Linked DNA regions of Homo sapiens: regions 2 and 3 are each linked to region 1. The links come from fine-mapping of genetic effects on gene expression. A gene starts in region 1. Each other region holds a variant in brackets. All regions are shown on one strand. Distances are from middle to middle.

The links.
Region 2: its variant is fine-mapped to the expression of ADAMTSL1 in left ventricle (GTEx, PIP 0.96).
Region 3: its variant is fine-mapped to the expression of ADAMTSL1 in tibial nerve (GTEx, PIP 0.91).

What each region holds. Positions count from the first base shown.
Region 1 is chr9:18,468,086-18,478,559 of GRCh38, forward strand. It overlaps ADAMTSL1 (ADAMTS like 1), which reads left to right and starts at 6,068. Exons shown (of 29, transcript NM_001040272.6): 1 at 6,068-6,210. The coding sequence starts at 6,148.
Region 2 is chr9:18,623,584-18,634,057 of GRCh38, forward strand. The region is part of intron 5 of ADAMTSL1 (ADAMTS like 1); the gene reads left to right. Among named protein-coding and RNA genes, the nearest start is that of MIR3152, 56 kb to the left of the region's middle. The variant G/A (reference allele first, on the strand shown) is at 5,702.
Region 3 is chr9:18,715,320-18,725,793 of GRCh38, forward strand. It overlaps ADAMTSL1 (ADAMTS like 1), which reads left to right. Exons shown (of 29, transcript NM_001040272.6): 15 at 6,217-6,346. It also overlaps the pseudogene RAP1BP1. Among named protein-coding and RNA genes, the nearest start is that of MIR3152, 150 kb to the left of the region's middle. The variant A/C (reference allele first, on the strand shown) is at 4,787.

The sequences.
Region 1 (10,474 bases):
AAAAGGCTACAAAAGACAGTTTATTTGTTGCCAAGATTCTCTGTAGCATTGTGCATTGCATACAGTAGGTGCTCAGTAAGTGTTTGTTGAATCTAATTCAATAACAAACCTCTGAGATCTGTGCCATAACTTCAGCAATGTAGAAAAAAGAAGATCAAGGACCGCAGGTTTGAGGGTACTGAACAAGTCTATCCTCCCGGTTCAGTTCAATGCTCTGCAATGAGTTCTGTTTTGTTTTGTGTTTTGTTTTGTTTTGGGGACAAGTATCTTTGAATTTGAATCTAAATTATGATAATATTTTTCCCAGAGTTTCATTAAATCTTTCAAATGCAGAAAAATTGAGAGACATGTCCAGTGGCTACTTCTATACCCACCACCTAGAATGGTACTGATTTATTATCTCCTACTTGTATCAGGCTCTGAGCTAAACACTCTACAAACCTCTCACTCTACTGCCCACAACTGCCTGACGGTGGTGAACATAACTCTCATTGTCCAAAAGCCTAAAACAGAACAAGCCAGCAAACAAACAAAAAAACCCTAAGCTCAGAAAGTTTCAGCAATTTATTTCCTTAAATCCCTTCGAGTAATAAATGCAACAGCTAAGATTTAAACTGTCTGGCTCCAAAAACTGAGTTCTTCCCATGGTACCAAACAGCCTCCAGAATTCCTTTCTTCTACTGACTGGGGTCACAGATTTTAACCAAGCACCTACAGTATGAGAAGCCCTGAATTAAGTCTTGTAGGGAGAACCGTAAGCCGAGGCCCTTGGGGCTTCTGCCATTTGGAGACGAATCAGATCAAATTTTACAATTGTGGAGTTTGTCACGTAAGCAACATGCTATGCTAGACACTTTGCAGGGAAAGAGAGGAAGACCATGGGACAAAGAATCTAAAATCATATTTTTTGCCCATTACACAACCTGCAGTAGTGAATCAGATTGAGTAAAAGCAGGAGTCTTACCTTTCTCTACTTTCTCTCTGCTTACTCTGTTCTCCACAGCTGTAAAGCCTTTCCTTAGTTTCTTTTCATTACCTAAAAGTCTGTGTATATCTCAAAGCCTTCTTCAGTTTCCATTTTCCTCTACCAAACTCCTCACTGAGTCCTTAAATATGCATTGACATCTCCCTTCTCTGAATTCTCATGGCCCTTTGCTTTACAAAGAGTCAGTATAGCTTAGTGGTTATGAACACAGATTGCTTGGGTTCAGATCTTGGCCCTTTCCCTCTTTGGAGATATGATTTGGGCAAGTACTTTAATTCTCTATGCCTCAGTGTTCTCTGTTAAAGGGGGTATATCAGTTGGGATTCTGTTGCAAAGAACAGAATTTATTCTTGCTAATTTAAGCAGAAAGTGATGTGTTATAGGATATTAAATAACACATAACATTTGAGTTACCAAAGAAAAAGACTCCAACTTGAGCTCTCTGAAGATTCCAGTGCTGCTTTACAGAAACACATCACCATGGGAGTTGCTGCCTCTTCCACAGCCAGGAAGTCATCTGCTGCTGAATGGAAAAGCTGCATGAAACAGCAAGAGCTGCAAGGGCCATGCCCACCTTCCCTGATCCAGCTAATAAATGCATGTCCCATGCCTGCCTCTTGACACCTGCAAACATAGCAACTGGTTAGCATGGTTACAAGAAAAACCTCATTGCTCTGTAGCCATTTTTACAAGCAGACAGAGCAAAGTGTAGTAGCTTCTGCCTCACTTCCTCCTTCCGAATTTTTGTAGTACTTCAGAGTGGCTAGTTCTCAATTCCATCCAGTACCCTAGCTGCAAGGGAGTCTAGAAAATGTTGTTTCTGGACTTCAGGCACTGGTTGGGATGAAGGACTGCTAACCCATCATTAAAAACATCTATGTGAAGTTAATAAATGTACCTACCCCATAGAGTTGTTGTAAGGATTACGTGAAATAATAAATATAAAATACTTAGAAAAGTGCCTACACATGGGAGACTCTCAGTGTATGTAGCTATTTTCATCTGTCAGCGTCTCAGATGGTAGTCCTGGGGAAAGTCAAACAGCCTTTGATAGAGCCCCAAATTTCCTGCCTGCTAATAACTTTGATGAACCCATTTTCTACGTAGGAGGACTGGTTTCCTCATCTGCAAATTGGGGATAATAATCACTCTCTAACTCCTAGAGTTTCTGTTCATATCACATTAGATCATGTGTGAAAGGTGATTTGAAAACTATAATGAATGCTCTAATGGCTTTGGTGTTAAATAGATACTAGGTGAGTTGGCAAGTTGTGGAGTAATGCTCAAATTTCAGTTCTGCCCCTGAGAATAGCAGTCTGCTTCCTATACTTTTATCTTAGTCGCCCTTACTTTATTTTTCAGAATTAACCAGGGAAATCGAACTTCACTGCATCCCTGTGGGGAAAACAAGGCTCAGATGCTGCCATAACCACTTCCTTAAAGAGGGGAGATTAGGCCCTGCCTAGCTCTTGAAATCCTCCCAGCCCTGAGTTCTTTCCAGGAGACCCTGTGTCCCCTATACACTGGTTTCTGCAGCTGACGGGCTAAGCAGAGAGGCTCAACCTGAAGAAAGAGACAGGTGGCTCCAGAGCAAGACTTGTAACGAATTCTCCCCAGGGAGAGAAATACCGAAAGTTTAGCTCACTCTTTCCTCCCATAAAGCACACTGAATGTTAACAGCTTGCTTCTGTCCAAGCTGGTGTCTTTTCAATTAAGTATTGTTAAATCCATACCATTTGGAATGATGCTTCAGACAGCCCTGACACTCTCTCTCTCTTGCTTCTGATTTCATTTCACCTAATATGTTGTGCATGGAGCCAGTAACCAGTATTATTCAGCTGCCACGGCTTCTGCTAGTGCTGCTGCTCACACACTTGCAGACGGTTTTAATTTAGATACCTGAAGAGGAAAAAAGGAATTTGGCCAACGCCCTGCTCAGATGCCGTAAGTGGCCTTTCCCCGGTTGCCATTAATATGGATCTAGATTACCTAAAGTTTTACATTACTTTTCCTAGGTGCTGAAAACGTTTTAGAAATGAGAAAGTCAAGACACATAGAAGCTGGAGGCTAAAATAAGATACTTTCCATCGTCAGGTAACATATACCCATGGTAAACCCTGGTAGCCTACTTTCCTTTTCCTATAAACATCCCCCTTCAACAACATCACTGCCAACATCTGAATATATGTATGTGTATACATCATATATAGATATAATGCATATATATGAATATGAGATGAGGGTGGATTTAGATTCGGTAAACCGTGGCTCAATGGCCAGTTCTAGCCAGCAAAGCTTTAGTCAAGTCACTTAACTTCTCTGAGCCTCAGTTTCCACGTACATAAAATGGGGTGATTACTTAATTTCAAAAAGTAGTCACAAAGGTCAAATGAGATCATAAATGTAAAATCACTTTGTAAACCATAAAGATGGCATGTACATTTTGGCCATCATCAAAATTAGTTCATGACCAAAACTTTTCCCAGTCACCTTAACCCAACTTGATTTTGTTCTCCCTTTTCTGAAGTTATAGTAAATTTGTAATTTCACCTGTACTGTGTAGCTCTGGATGTGCAATTGCTTTTCCTAGTTTCTCTGGGTATTCCCAAGAGGAAAGAAAATGCTGTGAGGAATCAGAAGCATGAGACAGTGTGGTGGGCATCCTCCAGGCATTCAACAGGTGATTGAGGGCTTAACTTTAAAATAGTATATTATTCGGTGACTTCATTGAGATGACCATCTTGCTGTACATTAGCATGCCCATTAAAACTTCAAGGCAGAAATTTCTGACTCAAAATACCTAGGCAGTATTTATTTGCAAAGCAGAAAAGAATCTAAACTAGCATGTAAGTGGTTCCCAGTTATTTTCTGACCATGCTGATTATTTTTCTGTTCCTCTACAAATAGTATCTCATCATTAGCTTTGTTGCTACTTTTCTTTCTCCCATTACCTATTCTTCCCTTTGGATCTGCTTAATGAGCAGGGTTTATGTGTGAAGAGGGAGGAGGTGGTATTAGGTAAAATGTTCCATTAATAGAACTAGCTGAAACTCTTCAGTTAATGACTGTGATAGGAGGGAAAAAAATAAACCCTTTAGCAGAAAGCTCTGGTGTGTAACAGAGAGACACATGTAACATAGCTTTATGAATGAAAGTTTATTTCAATCAATCACCTTTCTTTAATGTGATGAGGATTTCAGACAAAAACAATAGTGGAAAGACAAAGTTAAGCATTTTTACATCTACTTGTGAATACGCTTTAGCTTATGAGCATTAGCTAGTTTTTGAGAGATTTGTAAAACAAATCTTTCTAAAAGGGAAAAGCATATTTCAAGAATGGGCTCTCTTTGTTATGGATTTGTACTGTCCATTTTTCTAGGTCCACATACTTAATATTGAGAACAAAGGATAATCTTTGTATGACCTTGACTTTCCTAACAGCATGAAAATAGGATTTTTAAAGTTTCTCTCTCTTTAATTGATATACCATATGAAGTAGGTAACCTAAAGTTGAACAACCTGCTTTTCTTCACCTTTTTGAAAAGCAACGCAGCAGGTATGTACATAGGCAGACCTGCCTGTATTCACATGCCCATTATGGCTTGATCAGGTTTTCCATATTCGTGTGTTTCATACCTCTTGTCAGTATTTTTTAATAATGAAAGGAAAGAACATTAATTCTAAATGTCTTGTACCTCCACTGCATATATTTCTGGGCTATCAGGAGATCTGAAAAGGGAAAACGTCCTGATGACACACCTATGGCAATGTAAGGCCAGGGCTGCTCTTTTATTCTTTCAAAACTCAATGATTTCCTTTGCAGATAAGGGGAAATACATCCTTGTTTGACATTTGACACTTTTCTAAAACTGTAATAAAACCTTCCTCTAGTAGAGTCAAATCTCCCTTGCTGGTGGATTAAGCAGCTTCAGAAGCTTCCTGACCTTCTCGTTGCTGTTGCTGGCCTTGTCGTCATTTCACTGCTCATTAGCACTTCCTTCAGGGCTGGACTGGCCTCCAAGGTCATCCCATCCAACCCTCTTGCAATAGTGGATGGAAAAATGAGGTAAAACTCAGTTCAGCCTTTTCTGCATTATAACAGCTCTGATAAAGGACGTGGGTGAGGTGCGGAGGAAGCTGAAACTTGGTTAAAAGAAGGTTTGGGGATTAACTGAGGATTTAATTCATCCTTTCTTTCTCTCCCGTGGCTAAAATAGATAGTTGAGAGTTGGCAGTGCATCAAAACCAGGCTGCTCCTCAACCCCAAATTTCAGCCCCACTCATCCTGGAGTCTTTGTTGAGGGTTTCTTTTTAAACTGGGGGATCTAAGTTTCTAATTGTGCCTTTACAATTAGCAAATCTTAAATGCCTTCAATTGTCACTTTACAGAGAAGCAACTTGCTTTGTTTTTTTCCCCCCAAATTAAGTCCTTAATAACACAAAATAACTTATGCCACTGTTTAGGCTTAGTGAGGAACCTTCAGAAAATGTATAGAGTATTTATTTTGCAAGTCAAGAGAGAAAGTAAAGAGGAACTTTATGGAGGCGAAATAAAACAGTTGTACAGAACACATTTACAGGGCACATTAAGTCGGTTTTTGTCTATGGTTCTTTCCCTTTATGGCATATGTTATATATTGACAGGGATTAAGTTTCTCTCCTGAATGGAACAATACACAGTCACAGGGAGCTACTGTACTTTACAAAGCAACAGACATCAGCACAGGCAAATGGCAAATAGAAATGCATCTCACAAAGAACTAACCAGGTCCATGGGAAGCACAGTGCTTGGCTTCATCTTTTGCAATTCTGCATCTTTTGCATTTCCCTTCTCGCTCTGCTGCTCGCTCGCCTTTCTTTTTCGTCCTTTTCCCCCTTTTTTGCTCGCACCGTTACACTTTCTCTGTCCTCCTGGCTTTGTTATTCAGCATGTCTGATTAGCAGGAGCCTGATTGGCTGGCTGCCTGCTCCGAGAGAGATTCCATTCAGCTTACCCCCCACCCATCCACCCACCCACCCCTCGGTCAGGAAATGTGAGAGGGGCTGATGGAAGCTGATAGGCAGGACTGGAGTGTTAGCACCAGTACTGGATGTGACAGCAGGCAGAGGAGCACTTAGCAGCTTATTCAGTGTCCGATTCTGATTCCGGCAAGGATCCAAGCATGGAATGCTGCCGTCGGGCAACTCCTGGCACACTGCTCCTCTTTCTGGCTTTCCTGCTCCTGGTAAATGCCTTTTCATTTCAATGCATTGCTATTGCCATTGAGTCTGGGTGCTGTTGGGGGTGTGTGTGTGTATGTGTGTTTGTGTGTGTGTGTGTGTCTTTATCTTAAAACTCCAGGTAAAATAATTTACACGATTACAAAGAGAGAATACTCCTTCTAGAACTTTTAACCTCAACTTCCCAAGCAAGATAAAGTCTGCAAGACTTTCTGGAATTAGTTACTGCTATACAGTAATACTGATACTGAGACATGAACTTTGGGACATACTGCATGGAGTTTGGGAGCTGAGGACTGTATATATGGTGGTGTGTATGCTTGGAATTTGGATAACAGACATCCTGAAATTAAACTCACTCACTGTGGTGTTCCTGGAATTTTTTGATGGATAGGCTTTGCAGAGCTTGCCCGTACCGCCTTTAATGAATTACTTTCCATCTATGCACATGTACTATGGAACCAGGTAAAGAGGGGAATGAGAGCCTCTTTGCAGCCAACCCAGATTATGGCTCTTAATTACTGCAAGTCATTTATGGATAGAAGTTAATGCTAGGATTTATGAATTGAGGATTATGGCCTTTGATCTCAAATTTACTTTTAAAGAAGAAAAAGGAATGGTGACTTTTAGTACGGCTGATTGCCACAGTCATAGTGATAAGATGCTCTGCTCTTGAACGTCAGTACACATTGCATTTTTGACTCGAAGTAAATGTTCCGTTGTGACTCATACTTGGTTTTATGGGCAGAAAATGAACATTTACTGTCCAAAATAAATCTACACTCAAAATATTAATAGCAATGCACATTTTTTAAACCAGAGTGTTCTGGGCAGGCAGCTTAGTAAACCTCATCTGAAGGTTTGATTCCAAAATTTGCACACACTGATCCAAACAAATGTGATTGTAGTTTTTCCTGTCACATTTATAACATGCCAGAACTTCCTCAGAAGGTAACAAGGCAGGAAGAGAACAAGGTAAAAATGTAGCAAATGAATAGGTTGCATTGATTCCTTGATGGGGAAGGAATGTTTGTTCTGATTATATTCTGACAAATCTGATCTGCGCTATAATTTTGAAGTAGGGAAGAAAGCCATTTGGTACAAACTGAAAAAGTCCAGGAGATTCATCAAATAGAGTAATCAGACAGTGATTCAATATTTTATACATTCCCACTTCTTAATGATTTGCATCATTGTAGCTAAGAAATTATAATGCTGCATTGCAAGTGCTATAAATATAGAAATAAATTTTTAATTTTTCATAGAAATTTAAAGGTAAACTACATTTCAAGCATGAATGAACTATAAGTTTTAGCTGTTCTGAAAAATACAAAGAACAGAATGTTTAGGTATGCTTTATGACTTGTGGAGCAAGCGATTTATGAAAGGTGTCTCATTTTTTCCATATGGGATGTGTTACTTGTATACACCATTAGTTTGTCTCATCTTTCCTTCTTTGTGATTTTTTTAAGTGTGTGTTATTTTCCCATTATATTGCATCATAAAGCAAATTACCAGTATACATTACTTTTTTGATATTTTCATATGGAAGTATGATCTCATTATACTTTAGTAAAACTTTCCCATTCAGGAATAGATTGTTTTGCTATCCATTTGGTAAACGCATTATATCCCTCTGTGATATCTTGAATATTCATATATGTATTAGAGCATATAATTTGACTTATGTGGAATGAAAAGGTATGTATGCTTATTTCAGAAGGACTTAAAACATATCATATTTAAATTACAATAATTGTATTATAAAGATAAAATTAAAACAAACCTAGGTTTGTTTTATGCCTGCATTTAAATTAAGTGGAAATCTGAGAGTTATGCTACAAAAGGAAGAACTGACTGATGTTTACATACATCCCTTTGCCAAGCAATAACAGCATTAGTAATAGCTGTCATGTATTTTGTGTCTGAATGTGGCTAGTTGTTTGAAAATCATTACAATAAATCCTTACAATAATCATACAGATAAGACATTTTAAACCCGTTTTTTCAGGCAATGAAATAAGCTTGCATTTGAACCCAAAGGTCAAATAATGGAGAGAATAGAACATGTTTGCTTCGTATGGTGGTTGTAAATATTTAAGAACAATGAAAACAGTGGTGCAGGTTGGTCTGTACCCTTTGTTGCAGATATTTAGGCTTTCTGCATCATCTTGATCATTAAAGATATGTACAATATCATGAGCACTTGTTAAACTTGCTCATTAACTGCCCCCTTTAGCATTAAATTTAATTATTGGCTTAAGAGATTGTGACCTTTAGCCTGTTGTGTACTTGATTTAGAACTAGAAGTGTGGCATCATCAGCTCAACCTTCAAACTTGATAGAGAAATTGAATTGAGGGGCTTGTTTTTCCTATAGTCTTTTTTTTGTTTTTGTTTTCATTTACACATTGCAAGGATTCTGTCTATTCTTGGACTTATTTGGGGCAATTTCTAAAGGTCTCTGTAACTTAATTGGAAAACATCCTGTCTATTTTGTGGCAAGCCCAGTTTCTACCTTATTAAAATATCCCTCATTTCACTGACAGCTGAATCATCTGTATCATGACTAGGTTCTTGAGTGTGTACAAATATTGAAGGTTGTTCAGCCTTCATTCTGTCAAAATCCTTTCCCCTTGGAACTTATTTCTGAGAGGATGGGTGTTGAATCTATTTTACGTTACCACCCATATTTTCATGCACAGAACTTATATCATAAATTTATATTCTGGACACAGTAGGACAGTAGTACTGATCAAGAGATTTCATTTGATATTCAGGTGAAATTAAGCTACATAATGCCATTTTCTCAATCCTCCCATTCTGCTTTCTCGTATTTATTCTCTCTCCTTTGTCCCAATTGTTTAGCTCAAAAAGAATGTGGCAAAAACCATGACCGGCCATTGACATATGTGTCCATCTACACTTGAAGTCAAATCACTTCTTGTCAGAAAGGCATTTAATCAAATTTGCATTTGCCTTTTGTTTCTTTTAAACGGTTTTAAGCTCTTTTGCCTGCTATTGTGAGAGTTGCAAGAGTAACACTAGGAATTATAATAAAGTACATGTGTTTTCCTGTTGAATTTCTTTTTCTTCTCTGTACTAATTTATACATGGCAACTAGTCAAACACAATAGCCCATTCCCTTCAGTCCCTCTGGCACTCTCTCCCACTATTATCTAAGTGGATCTATCTTGGATGGGGAGAAGCACCCTTAGCTTGTGGAATGAATGTTAAGTCCCTTATTTACAGGAGACCGCGGCCTGTTCCAGCAGCATGTATGTCAGTGTGTTCATGTGCATGCACAAGCACTTTTCTATAATTGTTCACTCTACACAGATTTCTTTTTCTCAGACCTAGATTGTCTTTAAATCAAGCTTGAAGACTTTTCGCATAGATCTACAGAACGCTATGAAGCATTTAAAATTTAAAAATCACTTTCTTCATGTTTTTGTGAAGTTTCTTGTCTAGACATGGCCAGCTACATTTTTGTTTACTCAGGCTCCTGTTTTTAGTGTTTCAGTGTGTTCAGGACCACTTTCTGGCCCCCATTATTATTTTCACATAACACCATTTCTGTTGCTTCATATAAGTTGAGGGAAGAGTGTCCAATAGTGGTCACTAGTGAACTACAGAAGAATCTTGTTACACCAGGAAAGTTTTTCCTTGAAAAAGCATATGGAAATTGAAGTCTTTTGAGAGACAAAGAGAATGAATAAATAAATGCATGTATGTATTTGTGCATTTGTATGTTTTAATACATGTTGATGCCCATTTACTATTATGTATGTATAAATTGGAAAGCAGTCTTCTAACACACCATGGAGTAGGCTATTACTCTAACTTAGGAGATTCACATCTCCTAAGTTGATTCTATCCTACTAACAATATTACAGTTAGGGTTTGCAATTTTTATCAGTTAAGTGTCGTTAACTCTATACAAGTTACTCATGTTTTTTAAAAACTTAGTTTACTTGGGCTGTATTTTGCTTGGGGATTATATTAGCATGAGACATGGTCTGGTGTTTTGGTTCTCCCCTTTATTATGGCTTACTCAGAATATAATTTTAAACTCTTCCAGGAAAAATACTGGGTCCTATGAATTTCTGCTTTTCCCGAAGCACCTAGTAGAGTGCCGTGTAGATACAGTTTGTGAACTAAATGAAGAGAAAAAATGACTTACAGAGACTATCGAAGGGTTCTTTAATTCTTCATATTTTCAGTGATTCTTAAATTCATATGTGTAGTTCTGTTTCTTTGGTCAAGTGAC
Region 2 (10,474 bases), 160 kb after region 1:
AGGATAGATGGTACAAGTTCTCATGGTACCTACGCCAAAAATTGAGTCATTAATCTGAGGCATTTTATGATACACAGTCTGACAATCACTATTCTAGGCACTGCAGCAGATACAGATAGAAATAAGACAGCCCTTGTATTAAGGACATGCATTTTTAGAATTATTTTGACATTGCTTGGCATATTGTCTCCAGATTTTGCTACTATGCAGAATCCTTCAATAGATCCCTGACTGAGTATTTCTTTCCATATGTCTCTCTGGTTTGGGAAATGAGAATGAATATCTTTACTGAATGTGTTTTGTTATCTTTACTTGCTGACTAGCTGGAGGAAAACAATTGACATATGGAGAGTTTGTTGCTTTAAATGGACTTATAGGTCAAGGAAGAAAGGCAGATGCAGTTATTCTGGTATGCAGTGGAGGAATATTCTCAGAAGTCCTGAAAAGGCAGCTTGCCAAAGGATTAGCCTCGAGGTAAAAAGAGGAGGCAGAAACAAAGAATGGGGACTTACAAACACATGAAAAATTGGAGATACCAGTTTAGGGAACTCTGTACATTCTAACTCCCTTGGAAACAGTGGAAAATGTAATTCTGCAAAAAAAATAAAATAAATTTAAAAGATTCTGGCATATAGAATAAAGAATGAGGTAACTTAGACATTGATATAACACATTCAGGTGAGATTTTTCTTTGGTCATGTGGGTTGGTAGCTTCTTCCATAAGATGAAAAATTTCTAAAGTTAGAAGATGGAAACCAGAAATGGATAGAGGCATAATTCTCTTGTAAATCATGGTTGGATGTTAGAAAAGAGTTACATTTAAAAGATCACTCTTAAGAACTCTTCATGGAATGCTAAAAGAATTAAAATCCTCTAATTATTTCTGGCATGTAACTGAATCAGTGTTCATTATCTAGGAATCTAGGAATTACTGTTAGGTACAAAAGGAAATGTCATGCATGTGTGCAGTGATGGCTGTATAGTGTCCTGGGAGCATGTTTTTAATGGTAAAGGTGCTTCTTTATTCTCATGCCCATACCTTCTTGTTCTCATAGAGGATCTAGACTACTGTGCTCAGATAGACATTCCTCTTACCCTACTGTTAGGGAGGGATGGGTGACCTCTAGGGCCTGAATCACAAAACAAAGATGGAGAAGCTCCTAAGGAAGAAACTGAAGCAAATTGAGAGCCCTATATCATCTCCAAGTCTGCAAATAAATACCTCAATGAAAAGTGCCCTATTCAAGACCGACAGTAGGTAAATTATATAATACACAACCTGATGATTATACATACTGACAAAATGGAATTGATTCGTTTACCTTAGCACTGATGATGTCTCATGACAAAATGATTGATATCAATAAAGCCCACCATATGCATGCACCTCACCACAATCTATAGCAGATGCTGAACAAACTGCCTCACTTATGTTTCTCTACTCTGGAAGAATCTTCCATCTTATATTTACAGACTGTGAGGCGACCCACTGGCAGGGAACATGAGGCTGCTCTGCAGGGCCCAGTGGAGAAGCCAGGTGAGCAGTTCTCCACACCTGGAGGAGTCCTGCCAGATCTCTCCCCTGTCTTCTGCCAAAAGGCACTGTCAGCTCGCCACATGCTCTCTTCAAACTTCTGGCACTCAGATTCCCCACATTGAACTCACTTTCTTTCTGAACTTATATCCAAGTTTTTTTTTTTTTTCCCTTATGTTATCAAGCCTCAGAGGAACAAAGCAAAAACAGGAAAGTGGAGAAAAACCATGGTAGAATGTGCCAGAAGGATAAAGAGAAGTAGGAGAAGTTTATCAAATGGCTGCCATTTGCTGGTGATTTTTAAAAAATCATCTTTTTATTAAAAGACATTACAATTGCCTAATACAAATACAGACAATGGAAATAGAGCAAGATCAAAGTACTCTTTCTCCTTTCTTAAAGGAAAAGACTACCCACTGGTAGCACTCAGCCTTTTCATTTTTTCTAGTTACTTCTCAACTCCCCCAACCCAATAAAAATAGTCAAATATAGCTGACATTACCTTGCTTTTGATTCTTAAAATTTAAAAGTTCATTTCTCACAAGATTTATTGACTTATACTATGTTCTATATTTTCCAAGTATACTCAGAATATTCTTAGGGCTAGAGCCAGCCTATTTGCTATCAATTTGATATTTCCAGCTTTGCAGAACTCTCGTCTGTATCTGTATGTTTTGAAATCACCTGGAGATCCTAAAGCTCTCTCTCTACCTTTCTTGCATGGTGAGGTCACTTAACTCACTTATATCAAGATAAAATTAAGCTTTTAATACTTAAAAATGTGCTTCTCAGACTGTGGCTTATGCTGACGTATAATGGCTATGGGTAAACATATTCTTGGACTATCATTCTAGCTCAAAGATTTTGAGGTAAAGTACGCTTATAATAAAACACAGGCCTCTATGTTATAAAGTACAAAATACATATGGATTTTTTAAAGAAAGCACAAAACACTAAAGAAATTTCCACCTGCCCCTGGCTGCTTTGGGCTATCCTCACAAGCCACTCAAGGATATATTCATTCAACAGCACATATTTAATGGGCACCTGCTATATGCTGAGGAACTGTTCTAGGTGCTGGAAACAGCACAGAACAAAACAGACAAAATCCATTTATCTTCCTAGGAGCCATGGAAAAAACAAACCAGAGCAGGAGAACAGGAAATGGGTATAGGCTGCCAGCCACAGGTGATGCAGGGGAGCTGCAATTTTCAGTAAATTAATAAAGAAAGGACTCACTGATAACATGGCATTTAAACAAGGATCTAAGGGAAGTGAAAAGGGGTCACCATGCAGAAGTCAGGGAGAAGAAAATTCTAGGAAAAGAGAAAAGCAAGTGCAGACGTCCTGTGGTATTTGCATTCGGGATATATTTCATGAAGAACAAAGAAGCCAGTGTGACTAAAATGAGGTGAGTTTCAAAAAGGCTAGAGAAAATGATATGAGGCTGGGGGAAGAATGGCACAGATATTGTGGGGTTTTTTGTAAGTCTGAATGAAATGGGAAGTTGTTGGAGGATTTTGAACAGAGGAATAACTTGATCAGATTTCTGCTATACTGAGAATAGACTGTAGTTGGAAAGATATTACACTAAGCCAGGCCACAGATGACAATGGCTTGGACTGTACCAGTAGCTGTGGAAATGATGAGAAGTGATCCAATCATAGATATACTGCACCTGTATTTATTTTCTTTCTTTCTTTCTTTCTTTCTTACTTTCTTTTTCTTTCTTTCTTTCTTTCTTTCTTTCTGTCTTTCTTCCTTCCTTCCTTCCTTCCTTCCTTTCTTTCTTTTCTTTTTTTCTTTTTCTTTCTTTCTTTCCTTTCTTTCTTTCTTTTCTTTTCTTTTTCTTTCTTTCTTCTTTTTTTCTTTTATTGAAACAGGGTCTCACTCTGTCACTGAGGCTTCAGTGCAGTGGCACTATCACAGCTCAGCTCATTGCAGCCTTGACCTCCTGGACTCAGGTGATCCTCCCACTTCAGCCTCCCCAAGTAGCTGGGATTACAGGTGCACACCATCATGCCTGAGTAATTTTTGTATTTTTAGTAGAGATGGGGTTTTGCCATGTTGGCCAGGCTGGTCTCAAATTCCTGGCCTCAAGTGATCTGCCCACCTCAACCTCCCAAAGTGTTGGGATTACAGGTGTGAGCCACGGCACCTGGCCACCATTTTAAATTTTAGCCATTCTTATCAGTGAGTAGTGGTATTTCATACTTGTTTTTATTTGCATTTTCCTAATGGCTAATAATGTTAACATCTTTTCATGTTGTATTATCTTGCAATTGCTGCTGTAACTAATTACCACAGACTAAGTGATTTAAAGCAACACAAATTTATTATTTTATGGTTCTGGGGGCGTCAGAAAACTGAAATAGGTTTCACTGGGCTAAAAACAAGGTGTTTGCAGAACACAGCTCTGGAAGCATTGAGGGAGTATTTCTCTTTCTTCAATTTTGATTTTCCTGCTCCTGGAGCCTATGCACATTCTTTGGCATCTTCAAAGTCAGTAGCTTAGCATCTTCAGATCTCTCTCTGACTCAAGCTTCCTCTTCTGCCTGCCTCTTCCATATTAAAGAATGTTTGTGATTACATTGAGTCCACTCAGATCATCCAGGATAATCACTTAATTTTAAGGTGACCTGATTAGCAATCTTAATTCCATTAGCAACCTTAATTCCCCCTTGCCACATAATATTACACATTCACAGATTTAAGGACATATTTGGCAGGGGAGAGGGATACATTAGTCTACTTACCACAGTGTGCTTTGTTCATCTTTTGCATAGTGTCAGTTCAAGTCTGTTGCTCATTTTTAAAAAATGTGTTGCTTGACTTTCTCTTGTTGAGTTTTGGGAGTTCTTTATATATACTAGGTACAAGTCCTTTGTGGGATATTTGAATTGGAAATATTTTCTCCATCATAGCTTTTTTATTCAAAATTGCTTAATGTTATCTTTCACAGAGCAAAAGCTTTTCATTTGGATGAAGACCACGCTATCATTTTTTTTCTTTTACGGCTCATGCTTTTAATGTCATGTCTAAGAACTTCTTGCCTAAGACCAGGACACAAAGATTTTCTCCGTGTTTTCTTGCAGAAATACATTTCACCTTTAGATCAGTGACCTATTTTCAGTTATTTTTTGTATAAGGTGTAAGTTTGATAGGTAGCTTGAATTTTTTTTCGTATAGACGCCCAATTCTTCCAGTACCATTTGTTGAAAAAGACAGCCTTTTCTCTTTTGAATTGTCTTTAAACCTTGTCAAAAATCTATTGCCGTTTCTCTGAGGGTCTGTTTCTGGACTCTATTCTGCTATGTGTCTGTCCCTTCATCAATACTCCATTTTTTTTATTACCGTGGCTTTAAGGTAAATCTTAAAATGTGGTAGTGTGATTTCTCCAACTTTGTTCTTGTTTTCAAATTCATTTTGGCTATTCTATTCTGGGTCTTTGTCTTTCCATATAAATTTTACTATCTGCTTGTCCATATCTACAAAAAGTCTTGCTGGGATTTTTTTGTGTTAATTCTACAGATTGATTTGGAGGGGGTAGGAATTGACATCTTTAGCATGTTAAGTCACTCAATCTATAAGGTATGAGAATTTTATGTCTCTGTTTACTTAGGTCTTATTTTATCTCTTTGATTAGCCTTTATTAGCTTTCAGCATGAAGATCGCATATACTTTATATGATTTACATCTGTTGTATTTTTTGTAACTATTGCAAATGGCATTATATTCTCTTTTTTAAAATTAGAGATGAGGTTTCACTATGTTGCCCAGACTGAAGTGCAGTGGCTATTCACAGATGTAATCATAGCACACTACAGACCCACATTCCTTAGCTCAAGTGATCTACCTGCCTCAGCCTCCCAAGTAGCTGGGACTACAGGAGTTACTGCGCTTGGCTTGGCATTGTATTCTTTATTTCCATGTCCAATTATATATTCCTAGTTCACAGAAACATGATTGATTTTTGTGTGTTAGCCGTGTATTATGTAAACTTGATACACTCACTCAATACCTCTGAGTTTTTTGGTAGATGACTGGGATTTTCTCAATAAACAATCATGTTGTTTACAAGTAAGAGTGGTTTTGCCTCTTTTCAATTTGTAAGCCACTTTTTTTTTTGTAGTCTTATTGTACTGGCTACGCATGCAATACAATAGT[G/A]AATAGGAATGATGACAATGGAGGTCCTTATCTTATTCCTAATCTTAAGAGGAAAGCATTCAGTTTCTCACCATTGAGTATGATGTTAGCTGTAGGTTTTTATAAATGCCCTTTATCAGATTGAGGAAGTTCCCTTCCTTTCCTGGTTTGCTGAGAGTTAATAACATGAAGGGATGATGAATTTTATTAAATTCTCTTTTACCTCAACTGACAAAGTCCTGTGGTTTTTCTTCTTTAGATTGTTATTGTGATGAATTACATTAATTGGTTTTTAAATAACCAACTCTGCATTTCTGGGATAAAGTGTACTTGGTCATGGTGTATTATTCTTTATATAGATTTCTAGTTTGATTCGGCAGTATTTTGTTGAGGCTTTTTATCTGTGTTCATGAGAGATACTGGTCTGTCGTATTCTTTTTTGTATTGTCTTTGTTTGGTGTTAGTATTAGCACAAAATGGCCTCAAACGATGAGTAGAGAAGTAATTGCTTGTCTTCTTTTTTTCTGGAAGAGATTGTATGGAATTGAATATATTTATTCTTTAAATGGCTGCTACCATGCCCCAGTGAAATTTTCTGGATCTGGAGATTTATTTTTCAGTATGTAACCTTATGAACTTATGGAACACCATTATAGTAACTATTTTAATATCCATTCTGTGTTTGGATTGATTGATTTTTCACTTTAATATGTGCTGTTTTTTTTGTTTGTTTGTTTCTTTGCGTGCCTCATTATTTTTTGACTTGATGCCAGACATTACAAATTTTACTTTCTTGGGTACTAGATATTTTTGTATTTCTATAAATATCCTTGAGCTGTGTTCTGGGAGCAGTTAAGTTACTGAAATCAGTTTGAACCTTTGGGGTCTTAAAATGTGGTAGACAGGACCAAAGCCATGTTTGGTCTAGAGCTAATTGTACCCTTTTACTGAGGCGGGACCTTTCTGAGTAGACTACTTAATGTTCCATGACTTACAAAGTTTGTCACTTTGGCTGATGGGATAAGATACTATTCTCAGCCCTGTATGAGCACCGTGTACTCTTCTCTATAATTCTTTTGTGTAGTTCTTTCCCCAGGCCGGGTAATTTCCTCACACTTATGTATTGATTAGTATGCTGCTGGCTACTTTAAGGAAACCCTCTTGGGTGTCCAGAGTTGTCCTTCTGTATAGCTCTCTCCTTTCTGTTACTTTGTCCCAGAAATTCTAACTGTTTTTGTCTCCTTGGACTCTTGGCTTTGTCTACTCAATTCAGGGAATCTACTGAGCTCTACAGGTCTTCATACTTCCAAAGCTGTAGCCTAGGAACTCTATCAAGGCAGTAAGCTGGGGCAATGTTGGGCCTTATCTGATGTGTTTCCTGAGTATACAGAATTGCTGCCCTTTTTTGCCTGATGTCCAATATCTTAAAAACCATGGTTTCATCTGACTTTTTGATTGTTTTAGACAGAATATTAAATCTGGTTCCTGTTAGTTCATCTTTGTCAGAAGCAGAAGTCTTGGTGCTGGGCTTTCAATTCAGCTCTGCAATTACATAGAGCTAGCCAACTTTTGACTCCTTCTACGACAATGCAGTTAAGCACCTGTAATTCTGATTCCTCATCTCCCTACAACCTCCACAGCCATTTGGTTCCTAGAGGTTGAATGTGTTCCAATATTGTCTTATAATTTTCTCCCAAGCGGCTGACACTCATTTTGTGAGTTTGATACTGGCTGTTTTGATGTTAGCACCTGTGTAGGCAACGGTATCTATGTCAGGATTATCGCCTGAGTGAGAGGGAATATAAGATACTACTGATTGTGAGATGTATTCTGATTTCATATATGTTAAAGCATGAAAAGTTGTCCCTCTTGGAATCAATGAAATAGGGTATTTTGACAACAGAACTTTTTAACTGATTACATATAAAGATGAAGTAGAGGATGGCTCCAAGTTTTCTGGCCTAGGCAAATGGAAGGATGAAGTTCTCCAGATGGGAATGAGGAGGGCATCTTGTTTGGCCTGTCCAGTATATATCTTCTATTGTGCAATTACAGATAAACCAGGGAGAAAATTGAAAGCCTCAGATGCTCAACTTCTTATTTTGTTGGATATATTTTAAGAGTAATAAAACCGTCACGAAGATGTAAAACATACCATTTAAACCTCCTCAAGATTGGCAGACTATTTTTATACATAGTCAATTGTATTTTAAAATGACTCTCTCATTTTTAAAAATAAAATAAAATAAAGTGTCAGCTCCATAGGCATAGAGGGAAGAGTCTTTAAAAACATGAACTCATCAACGGATCTAAAAATAAGATAAACTCAGATATCAGAATAGGAAATTCTGTCTTTCAAAATATTATCCTCATCACCTTTCTCTGACACAGCTGTGAATCACGCAGAACATCCACATATGACAAGATTTTAAAATGAATATAAAATATTCTATATAGAAAGTTGTGTGATATACATATAGATAGATATTTTTTAAAGAATACTTTTAGGTACAGTCCTTGGGAAGAATTTTCTTGAGAAAAGACATTTGCAACCCATATCTGTGAAATGACAGAATTTATGATTCCCATGGAAATTTTGTTCATTGAATGGAGAAATGGGTTATCTGGTATCTGAAGCAGATCATTTAGAATTGTTGATTAATAAGCTAGAAATATGTCCTGAAGACTGGCATCATGGTTCAGTCAACAAAGCCAGAATAGATTAGGGCAGATGCACTCAATCGTAAAACAGTGTGCCTTTGTAGGAAAGGGCACCCAGAGGAATGTGCAGCACGGTGGGAGAGGATGTGGCCCCTGCCTCGCCAGCTATACTAATGGCATTAATCACCAAGGAGGCAGGTGTTGCCACCAGATTGCTCTCACATCCTAAGAGATCTTAAACACCACTCTGTGCACAATATTGTAATAGATGCCAAGTAGAAGCATCTTCCAATCCATCCCAAATCATTGAGGATTTATCAGAAAGTGAGACAATTATTAATACATAAACAACTCAAAAGTGGCTTTTTATGAACATGCAGAAAATGAAATTTTTAATTGTTTTCCCTATTTTGTTTTTTGTTAAATTAAGAGTACTGTTCCTTAAAGTATGTCCTAAGATATATCAGCTGATTTTAACAGATGACACATAAGAAAAAGTTTTTATGGATAAACATCTTAGGTATACACGGGGTTAAATAGAGTGAAATGGGTTTCTTTGGTGCAGTGCTCCTAAAAAAATGAATGAATATGCTTTGGGAATTTCATCTGTGGGGTGTAGTATTTTGTATTTCCCCCATATTTTATCTTAGATCCCTTTTTCAGGACCATCTCGTGGGGCTAGTGCTTTGTTTATCTTCTTTGTCACTGAATCCCTAGTACCTAGCATGGAGCCTGACACTAAAAGACACTCAAAAAATACTTGTGGAATAAAGTAATGAATTTGCAGATCGTTTAATGTCTGGCCAGGGGTCCATCAGCCCTTTTCAGAATAATATATAAGAGAAGGCTGTGGCTCTTCCTACTTCTGTGCCATGTGCTGCCAACTGCTAGAGTTTGTACCAGCCTGACTTGCTTCATTTCTCTTTGACTAGGTGAGTGCAAGGGGCATCAGGAAATACTATTTCACCTGGTCTACTTTCTCCATATACCCTCTTCCTCAACAACTTTCTAGGAGGTTCTTCTCCTCTCTTTTTTGGGGGTGCATGCTAATGTTACCACACCCTGTCTTCTTTAGGGAACATACAGATATTACAGCATCAGCCAAGAGCTAGGGTATTAATGTTCCAGTTTATGGAATGTGAGTCACTTCCCAGCAGAGCAAGAGGGAGGCTGCATGAGCTGTGTGTGGGTCAGAAGACTGCTGCTGAGCATGGCAGGGCCAAACAGAAAGCTTTCCTTTTACTTGCACTTTATTTGAACTGTGGGTAAACAAAGACTTTCTATTTCTAGAAAGTCCCATTGTTTTAACTGCTTTGAGTTTCTTTTGCAAACTTAAAAAGTCATGTCTTTATGCAAGGCGTTTAAAGCTCTGTAGGCCCAGTCTCGGCCGGGTGTGGTGGCTCACTCCAGTAATCCCAGCATTTTGGGAGGCCGAGGTGGGTGGATCACAAGGTCAGGAGTTCAAGACCTGCCTGGCCAAGATGGTGAAACCCCGTCTCTACTAAAAATACAAAAATTAGCCGGGCTGCAGTGGCAGAAGTCTGTAATCCCAGCTACTTGAGGCTGAGGCAGGAGAATCACTTGAACCCAGGGGGCGGAGGTTGCAGTGAGTCAAGATCACAATCATGCTACTGCACTCTAGCCTGGGTAACAAAGTGAGACTCCATCTCAAAAAACAAACAAACCAAAGAAGCTCTGTAGGCCTAATCTTAACTTTTTTTTTTTTTTTTTTGGTTCCTTTTCTATATTCCCCTTACACTTTTTTCTGTTGTTGTTCTTATATACCACAAATTCTTAGCTCTCTGAAATTCAACAATGTATGACATTAAAAACAGCTATAAGATTTTGTCATGAGTGGAATATTCAACTTTGTAGAGAACTCGATAATGTAACCTCTCCAGGGAAGGAATTGGGAGCATATGATTCTTTTTTCTCATTCAACAGATAATGTGCTAGGGGCCTTGGAGAGTTGAAACACTATTTAAAAAAAAAATAGTTTTTCAATCCCTGTCCTTTAAGAGATTTGGGGTAGAGAGAGGAAAATAATGTTTACAGAATACTTACTGTGTTCCAGGCTATACATCCCTATATCTAGATTCATGTCTATATTTATATCTAGTCACGACAATAGTA
Region 3 (10,474 bases), 250 kb after region 1:
ATTGTATATCTAGAAATCCCCATTGTCTCAGCCCAAAATCTCCTTAAGCTGATAAGCAACTTCAGCAGTCTCAGGATACAAAATCAATGTACAAAAATCGCAAGCATTCTTATACACCAACAACAGACAAACAGAGAGCCAAATCATGCGTGAACTCCCATTCACAATTGCTTCAAAGAGGATAAAATACCTAGGAATCCAACTTACAAGGGATGTGAAGGACCTCTTCAAAGAGAACTACAAACCACTACTCAAGGAAATAAAAGAGGATACAAACAAATGGAAGAACATTCCATGCTCATGGGTAGGAAGAATCAATATCATGAAAATGGCCATACTGCCCAAGGTAATTTATAGTTTCAATGCCATCCCCATCAAGCTACCAATGACTTTCTTCACAGAATTGGAAAAAACTACTTTAAAGTTCATATGGAACCAAAAAAGAGCCCACATTGCCCAGTCAATCCTAAGCCAAAAGAACAAAGCTGGAGGCATCACACTACCTGACTTCAAGCCATACTACAAGGCTACAGTAACCAAAACAGCATGGTACTGGTACCAAAACTGAGATATAGATCAATGGAACAGAACAGAGCCCTCAGAAATAACGCCGCATATCTACAACTATCTGATCTTTGAAAAACCTGAGAAAAACAAGCAATGGGGAAAGGATTCCCTATTTAATAAATGGTGCTGGGAAAACTGGCTAGCCATATGTAGAAAGCTGAAACTGGATCCCTTCCTTACACCTTATACAAAAATCAATTCAAGATGGATTAAAGACTTAAACGTTAGACCTAAAACCGTAAAAACCCTAGAGGAAAACCTAGGCATTACCATTCAGGACATAGGCATGGGCAAGGACTTCATGTCTAAAACACCAAAAGCAATGGCAACAAAAGCCAGAATTGACAAATGGGATCTAATTAAACTAAAGAGCTTCTGCACAGCAAAAGAAACTACCAGCAGAGTGAACAGGCAACCTACAAAATGGGAGAAAATTTTCGCAACCTACTCATCTGACAAAGGGCTAATATCCAGAATCTACAATGAACTCAAACAAATTTACAAGAAAAAAACAAACAACCCCATCAGAAAGTGGGCAAAGGACATGAACACAGACTTCTCAAAAGAAGACATTTATGCAGCCAAAAACCACGTGAAAAAATGCTCACCATCACTGGCCATCAGAGAAATGCAAATCAAAACCACAATGAGATACCATCTCACACCAGTTAGAATGGCAATCATTAAAATGTCAGGAAACAATAGGTGCTGGAGAGGATGTGGAGAAATAGAAACACTTTTACACTGTTGGTGGGACTGTAAACTAGTTCAACCATTGTGGAAGTCAGTGTGGCGATTCCTCAGGGATCTAGAACTAGAAATACCATTTGATCCAGCCATCCCATTACTGGGTATATACCCAAAGGACTATAAATCATGCTGCTATAAAGACACATGCACACATATGTTTATTGCGGCATTATTCACAATAGCAAAGACTTGGAACCAACCCAAATGTCCAACAATGATAGACTGGATTAAGAAAATGTGGCACATATACACCATGGAATACTATGCAGCCATAAAAAATGATGAGTTCATGTCCTTTGTAGGGACATGGATGAAATTGGAAATCATCATTCTCAGTAAACTATCGCAAGAACAAAAAACCAAACCGCATATTCTCACTCATAGGTGGGAATTGAACAATGAGAACACATGGACACAGGAAGGGAACATCACACTCTGGGGACTGTGGTGGGGTGGGGGGACGGGGGAGGGATAGCATTGGGAGATATACCTAATGCCAGATGACAAGTTAGTGGGTACAGCGCACCAGCATGGCACATGTATACCTATGTAACTAACCTGCACATTGTGCACATGTACCCTAAAACTTAAAGTATAATAATAATAATAATAATAATAAATAAAATAAAATAAAATAAAAATTTTAAAAAAATAAAAAATAAAGAAATTTGAAAAGTCTGCCCATTTCCTTCCCAACAGATATTAAAGGCAATCTGTTGAAGACATTATACTGAAAGGACTATCATATTTTAAAGACAAGATCACTGTCTCCATAGGTTTTTGAAACATTTTTAAAAACTATATAGCTGTATTAATTAGAGCACTTATTTTCTACAATAATAGTGACCTTAAATTTCTTTAAAAAAATTACAATAAGCTACAAGTATCAAAGAAGCAAAGTCATCTAGAGTAGTCTACATAGGAGCTCTTTGGACTTTGTTTTATTATGGTAAAATAGTGGTGCTTTTAGGATTTACATTATTGTACTCTCCAATACAAAGTATGAGTGAGGGTTAGAGTATACAGTACACCATTTTCATACATGTACAACGTGGGTGGATGAAGAATGTCTCTTAGCAGTAATACTGGATGTAGTCTCTGCTTTTACCAGCTGCATAATCTAGGACTATTATATAAGTAAAAATCTCTCTTGTGAAGCTTGAAAGTGATTAGAATGTGCAAACTGATATAGTAGCTTTCATATGCTCTTAAAGGGTACCACCACAGGAAAGTCCATTTAAGATGCTGGTAGGTTTAACAAAGTTGGAGTGTTGGCACTATTGAATTGGACAACAGTTCTTCAGAGCTGACTCAGAGCTGCAATGCACTTAGTACATTAAAGCAGCTGACATGATGACTTTTTGCGAGCCTTCCCAGGCACTGGAGTTTTTCTGTTAATCTGCCGCACTAGGTCATAAAAGATCTCATTAACATTTATTTTGAATTTTGTAGAAGAATCTAAGAATGCACAGTTGTTCCATTGTCTTGCTAGATTTTTGACCTTCTTCCTTCCCTACAGCTCTTTCATCTTCCAAGTCATACTTATTACCAACAAGAATCATTGGAACATCATCAGTGTCTTTAACTCAAAGAATCTGTTCTCTCAAGTCTTGCAAATCATTAAATGTGGACTGTGCTTTGATGGAATAAACTAATGCAAAGCCTTGTCCATTTCTCATGTACAAATCCCTCCTTGCTATACATTGTTCCGTTCCTGCAGTATCCAAGATTGCAAGCATACACTGCTGTGCATCTACTTCAACTTGCTTTCTATAAGAATCTTCTATCATAGGACATATTTTTCAACAAAAATTCCTTGAACAAATTGTACATTCAAAGCAGACTTTCCAACGCCTCCTGGGCCAAGAATGACTAGCTTATACTCATGCATGATGCAAACTTGTCGAAACCTAGTACCTCTCACGCTGTCACCGGGTTCCCGCAGCCAGTGTCACTCCCTCCGGGTTGCTACTCTCGGCACCACAGCAGTCCTGCCGCTGCCGCCGCCGCTCCAGCTGGTTTACACACCTGACTCTGGGCGAGGTTTGGCATTGTCCAGAAGGGCCTAAGTTCTATCAAGAAGGAGTTCACAAAGTGGAAACACAGGTCACATCACTTACACACCTTCACACACACACCTGATCCAGTCACTTTCAAGTAAAGCATGTGACAAGCCCACGGTCACTTCCTGCCTCAGGATCGTTGACCCAATTTCATAAGGTTTTCAACAGCTGAATAAAGGCAAAATATGTTTTATTTTAGAGTCTCATTTAGAATCTCTTGAATACTACCAAACAGGTAAATGAGTTAAAAATTTAATTTCTAAGATAACCACAGCTCTAGATTCTGTATGGGATAGAAAGCTACATCCAGTGACTTCTCATCACTACCTTAATAATACTAGACTATTCCAGTGGGAAGTATCAGTGATTATATCAACTGTTTCTTATGAAGTGTTTGGCTGTGTCGTCATACCATGAATTTCAAATGGCTCATCCCATCTACAACCAAGAGAACACCCTGCAGTCAGCATTACAGAATATGATGGAATAATTTGAATGTCTAATAGAAATCTCAAATGCTCCACCCTGAACTGGCCATGATATATTTAAATTAAATTTTGAAGCTCATAAACAATTTAGAAAAAAGAAAATGTAAAGATACCATCACAGCCACAGGGTAAATATTGTGATTCTTTTTTTATTTTTATTTTTATTAATTTACTTTTGAGACGGAGTTTTGCTTTTCTCACCCAGGCTGGAGTACAATGGTGTGATCTCAGCTCACTGCAACCTTCATCTCCCTGCAACCTTCACCTCCCATGTTTCAGCAATTCTCCTACCTCAGTTTCCCAAGTAGCTGGGATTACAGGTGTGCACCACCATAGCTGGCTAATTTTGTACTTTTAGTGGAGACGGGATTTCACCATTTTGGCCAGGCTGGTCTCGAACTCCTGACTTCAGGTCATCCGTCCACCCTGGCCTCCCAAAGTGTTGGGATTACAGGCATGAGCCACTGTGCCTGGCTTTGTGGTTCTTTTTTTTAAAAAATGTTTAATTTCTCAGACTTACAAAGAAGAAAGGTGATTTGGACTCCAGCTGAGTCACTTTTTAAATGATGGCCTTCCTAAGTGGACTAGATCAATGTCACATCAACCTAGGAAGTATTAGCTGATGATTGAGCTGATGACTTCTTGGAGAAACACAGCATACGTGGGAGGAGAGCAGCATGGTGGGTCAACTGTACTATACTAGGTAGTATCTGATGAAGCAATGCAGAAAATAAAGCAAGGCAATATATGTGTATTTATGTATATTGCTAATTACATGGATAGTCCCAGACTCTACTATAACTATATATAAATGTCCAGCTATAGATAGGTATCTTTAAATGTAAGTATCTTTATATACACAGCTATGTATGTCTGAAGGCAAATTAGTGAGAATGTCCTGTCTTGCCTCTTCACTCA[A/C]ACTGAGCTCTGCTGAAATGATTCCAGACAAATGTCTAGGTTATTCCTAAAGATCTCCAGGGAAGTAGATATGACAGCCTCTTAATATTTTTAAATATTAAGTCTATCAGTCAGTACTAAGGGCACAGCCATCCTCAGCTTTACCATTTACAACTGTATGAACTTAAGCAGGTCTTTTCACCCTTCCCAGCCTGTTTTCTTATCTGTTAAATGGGAATAAAAATAGTGCTTACTTTGTGCAGTTGTTGAGAGGACTGAATGATGCATGCCAAGCTCTTAGCGTTGGTACCTGGTTAATAATGGGCATCCTGTATATGTTAGCTACTGTTATTATGACTGGGCATCAAAATGAAATGTCTGGTCATTACATTGCTCATTTAAATGTCTCCACAAGGGGACCAGGTGCAATGGCTCACGCCTGTAATCCCAGCACTTTTAGAAGCCGAGGTGGGCAGATCACTTGAGGTCAGGAGTTCGAGACAGACTGACCAGCATGGTGAAACCCCATCTCTACTAAGAATACAAAAATTAGCCGGCCATGGTGGCACACGCCTGTAATCCCAGCTACTCGGGAGGCTGAGGCAGGAGAATCGCTTGAACCCGGAAGGCAGAGGTTGCAGTGAGCTGAGATCGTGCCACTACACTCCAGCCTGGGCAAGATTCTGTCTTGAAAAAAAATTTTAAAATAAAATAAAAATAAGTGTCTCCCCAAGGGCCCTGCAAACCACCTTGGAGAACTTCCCAGTAACCTTGTGCCAGTCACTGCTCAAACTCCTGTTTCACTAGCTCTGAGTCAGGGCCTGCGGGTGTCAGTGGGAAGGTTGTTTTCCACGGCTGTGGTTATTATGCATCTTATTCTCCTTCTTTGTTCCAACTTCCAAGGCTGCCCTAGGTCACAAAAGAAATGAACCAGAATCAGAAGGCAAACAGCAAAGACTGGAGTCCTAGATTCAAGACCTCAAGAGCCCAGCAGTTTACAGAATTCTGGATATAAAACATGGCCTTGGGCCTCCCTTCCAAATACAACGATTTCCTTTCAATTAAAATATAAGATGTGAAGGTTTTGGGCCCCTTTTTTGCCACCCTGTGCTCCTTGTTCATTGAAGTATCATGTTCCAGCATTGGTGGCATTAGCCTCGTGGCATTTTTTTAAGCATTTCAAGAGTCTAGGTAGCAGCCTCTCTTCTGTGGGGGAGTTGCCCTCCTCAAGGAGCATGCTCACAGAGGCAACAAGCTTATGAATACTTTCTCCCAGCTCAAGTGATGCTTGACAAGATTGGCAGTCCTGGGCTTTAAACTGCCATCTCTGACATACAGCGAGAGTCCTACAGAACACAGGGACCTCCCACCAGCTGCCTTGTCTACACTTCATCACCCCCCACACACACACCCACTTTGCACTCTGGCCTGACCGTGTGATTTGTACACAGGTGTCCAGGAGGCTGTGGTGAGCTGCTTGAACAAACAGACTCGGGAGCCTGCTGAGGAGAACCTGTGCGTGACCAGCCGCCGGCCCCCACAGCTCCTGAAGTCCTGCAATTTGGATCCCTGCCCAGCAAGGTAAGGGATGTGTGGCCTGCCCTGCTGTCCAGGGGCACGTACAGAACTGGGCGCATCTTTCAGTGGGCAAGACTGTAACACTTATTTGTTACTCAGTGTTTTGAAAACCAATTAGCATCAGTTCAAACTTTTAGTCAAATCCACTTAAGTTTAATTGAAACCAGGGCTTTGGAATTCTAGCCCAGTCAATGGTCATGCCAGAATCTGGAAGATACCGTGCATTCACTTGAGCCTGTGGCATGGCTGGTATGTGTGTGTGCCACGCAGTTGCTTTCCCCTAAAGGGAACATGAGGTGACAACAGACTTCATGGGCTCTGCCACCTTTTAGCCTGTGTCCTAAGCACTCACACCATAGTAATGAACTGGTCTGTGAATTGCAGAATATAAGGGCCTGAAGCAACTGGGTGGTATAATTGATCCACTGTGAAATCTATATGCACACAGCATGCAGATTCATCGTAGCATGCTCTGGGGGTGTGTGTGTCATTCCACATGCGTAAAATCAATTAGAGCATTTCATTGTTCAGCCCTGCCTGGGTCTCATTATTAGCCAACATTGAGTCACAGCCTTGATTGAATTAATCAATCCAATCACTGCTTCAGTCCCTACAATTTTATGGTGTCTTGAGAAACTTGCCTTCTAGATACTTCTTTTTGAGCAAATCTCATCTATGGGTTTGGAAGGGAGACGTTTAAGAACTAAATCCAGACTTTCAAATCTGCTGATGGAATGAAGAAATGTTGCTGAATAGGGTCAGATCCTAGATAAAAGGGGGAATGCTGATTTTGAATGATAGTTTTTCTCTTTCTGCAAAGTGTGTCATGTAAGAAGTAGTTAATACCTGTATTGCTGTCAGGCATTAACAATAGTTTGCTGGTCACGATGATGCACTGCTTGTATTATTTCCCAGCTGGCTAGATTCCTTTCTTTGGGACTTGGAGGGTACAGATCATAGTCCTCCTCCAATCACATGGAGGCACATCCCATGGTGACACTCCTCCTGCTAGTCACCAGAGTTGTTCTGTATGATGATCTGAATGGTGGACCAGGGCATTCCCCTCTTCAAATACAGAAGTTAAGAGGGCAACTCATGCTATATTCTCCAAGGCAACCATAAAATCAGTCAGCCACTGCTTTGGAGAAGCACCCAACCCATGAGAACAGCAGTCAACAAGATAGAGTCAAAGTCAGGTCCTGTACATGAAATCCTGAGTAACCTCGTTTTCTATCCCTGCCCCACCTGGTTCCACATTTCTGTCCTAACTTCGCAGCTCTCTAGTTGTTGAGCCTAAATGTGTGGGCAAAGGGCACCAACTTTTCTATTTGACTACAGTCCTGTCATCTAGGAAGAAGCAGTATCGACTCAGCATGGAACGCCTGCAACGTTCTTTGTTAGGCAACCAAGAGGCCTGGCTTCTCATCCTGCTGTCACCAACTAGCTCTGTGGCCTAGGGCGAGGTGTCTGCCCTTTATGTTTCCACATCTGCAAAGTGAACTGGTTGTACCTGATGATCTGAGATCCCATGACTTGCTCACATGTCCCATGATTCTTTATTTTGTAGGCAGAAGCATTAAACAGCTACTCCTGCTGCTGTGTGCTAATCATTCCTGTAATTTCTGTTCTGCTTATTTGCCATTATTTGAAAAACATGCAAAAGGGTCTTTCTAACCACATTCCTGTGTTGTAACAACACCCAAATGCTGAGGCAGTGCCGAGGAGTCAGTGCCTGGGACTTGCTTAAAACTGCTGGGACTCGTGGTCCCTAAACCCTTCTTTGAGCACCAAAACGAATAGGACATGAGATGTTACTTCTCATTCTCAAAGTACTAACTATGTTTAAGTTACAAAAGGTTAGGTTATCCTGTGACCCTTTTGTTGACTCACAGACAAGAACAGTTGTTGAGCTTAATGTTGTCGCATTTGCTCCAGATAAACTCAATTCTCTGATTTCCCACCAGCCAGCTGTCAAGCCAACAGGCAAGACCTCTCACTGGGCACAGCCAGGAGTTTCTTGGGTCGACCATACACATTTAAACATTTGTAGAAGGTTGCTAATTGCAACAATAAAGGGGACCAAAGTATAATGGCCTAATCTCATCCAAGAGTCAAAACAGATTTTCCCCCTAAAAATGATAATTGTATAGAGGTGCCTTTCCTGTGGAATATCTCACTCTGATGTCAGAGAAAAATCTCTCCTTCCCTTCTCCTGGTGTTCAATGTATACAGAAAATAAAATGTGTTTGGTAGGAGCATAATAGTGTGTTGTTTTCCCACACAACCCACAACCTCTGTTCTGTTGGGAGCAATTTAGGTCTTTAATTCACAATTCTTACTCCACATGGTTCAGCGTTCCCTGTACATTTTTGTGTGTCTTCTGATGGGATGCAAGTTTCTAGACCGTGTCCTTTGGGGTCTTGGTCTGTGCTGCTATGCATGTGTTTAAAAAAATACCATAGCATTTTCAGTGGGACATAACAAAATGACATTTCAAGTCTTAGTCACTGGGCCTTTGTCTCTGAGAGGTCACCCCCTGGTTAAGATAAATAGCTTTCCCAGGCAGTTGTTAGTCCCACTGAACACCAGTTAGGGAGCCACTTTTTTTCTTGTATGTAGTCAGAATTATCAGATCACATGGAGAATACCAAAGGCCCTAGAGGGCAAGTCCAATCTGCTTAGCCAGGCTTTCTAAGATTAAACTTGGCTTCTCTTGACTCTGTGTGATGGCAGGGATTGTTTCAGAAGCACATGTCTAACTTTCACCAGGTTTAGGCAAATACATCCTCATACCTGGTTATTCACAATAGGAAGATGTCTTCTCAAGCTGGAGGTATTCTGACTGTTCCAATTTGTGTGTTTGTGTGCATGTAGTGCCTACATTTTTTAGAACACTTTTTAAAAATAGTCATTTTCTGTTAGAAGAGTACTAGATTTTAGAGTTCTTGCTATCAGCTTTGTGTCTGAATCCTCCTTTCTATATTTCTGACACCTAGTATAATGTTTGACACATAGTAGATGATTATTAAGTGTTTATTATATAAATGAGTATGAAGGACCAGGGCCAAATTTATAGGTAGCAATGTTTGGACCATATTATCAATGACAGCTGGGAAGACCTCAGTGCTTTCCCTCCTCTGCATCCTCCTTATCCCTTCTCTCCAACCTTCCAGATGCTGTTGATCCTTTCCTTAAGCTTAAGGATTTAAATGCCAACTTAAAACATAAATAGCCTCAGGATTGAACCTTTTTTTTTTCTTTTGAGACAGAGTCTCGCTCTGTTGCCCAGGCTGTAGTGCAGTGGTGAGATCTCAGCTCACTGCAAGCTCCGCCTCCCGGGTTTACACCATTCTCCTGCTTCAGCCTCCCAAGTAGCTGGAACTACAGGCGCCCACCACCACGCCTGGCTAATATTTTGTATTTTTAGTAGGGACGGGGTTTCACCATGTTAGCTAGGATGGTCTCGATCTCCTGACCTCGTGATCTGCCCACCTCGGCCTCCCAAAGTGCTGGGATTACAGGCGTGAGCCAACGTGCCCGGCCAGGATTGAACCTTTTATGTTATCATGTATGTATGGCAAAGTATCCCCCAAGTAAGGATACAAGGACAAGCTTTAATAGAAAAGAGAGGGACAGATGGAGGTTAAGTAAGTTATAGGCATTACCCAGGGAGGAATTTGATTGTCGGGAAAGATGGAAAGTAGTATATGGAAGACAGATGTTAATCCCTTCACAACTTTGCCTAAGATTAACCATAAGCAGTTAGGACCATTTTTGCTTGTGAGCTGCCAGTGAGAATTTTCCATCAAAGTTAATGAGTAATTTGTGTGTCTAAAAGCCATATCATCCACCCAGTCCTTCAGTGGTGAAACCAGCTCGAGGGAGAAATACCCAAAAAGGACCTAAGATCAGTCATTAAAAAAGAAATCAGCCTCCTATTCCTAATAAGGAGGTTTTCTGTGTTATAATTATACAAGGAATACATGAATATTCTCATTCTTTAAAACTCAAGCACAGCAGAATAAAAAAAAAAGAAAGGTATACCTTCCCTTATCACCACCATCTTCTTCAGTTCTAGTTCCTTCTTATACCCAGAGATAACCATTGTTAATGCTTTGCTACATACACTTC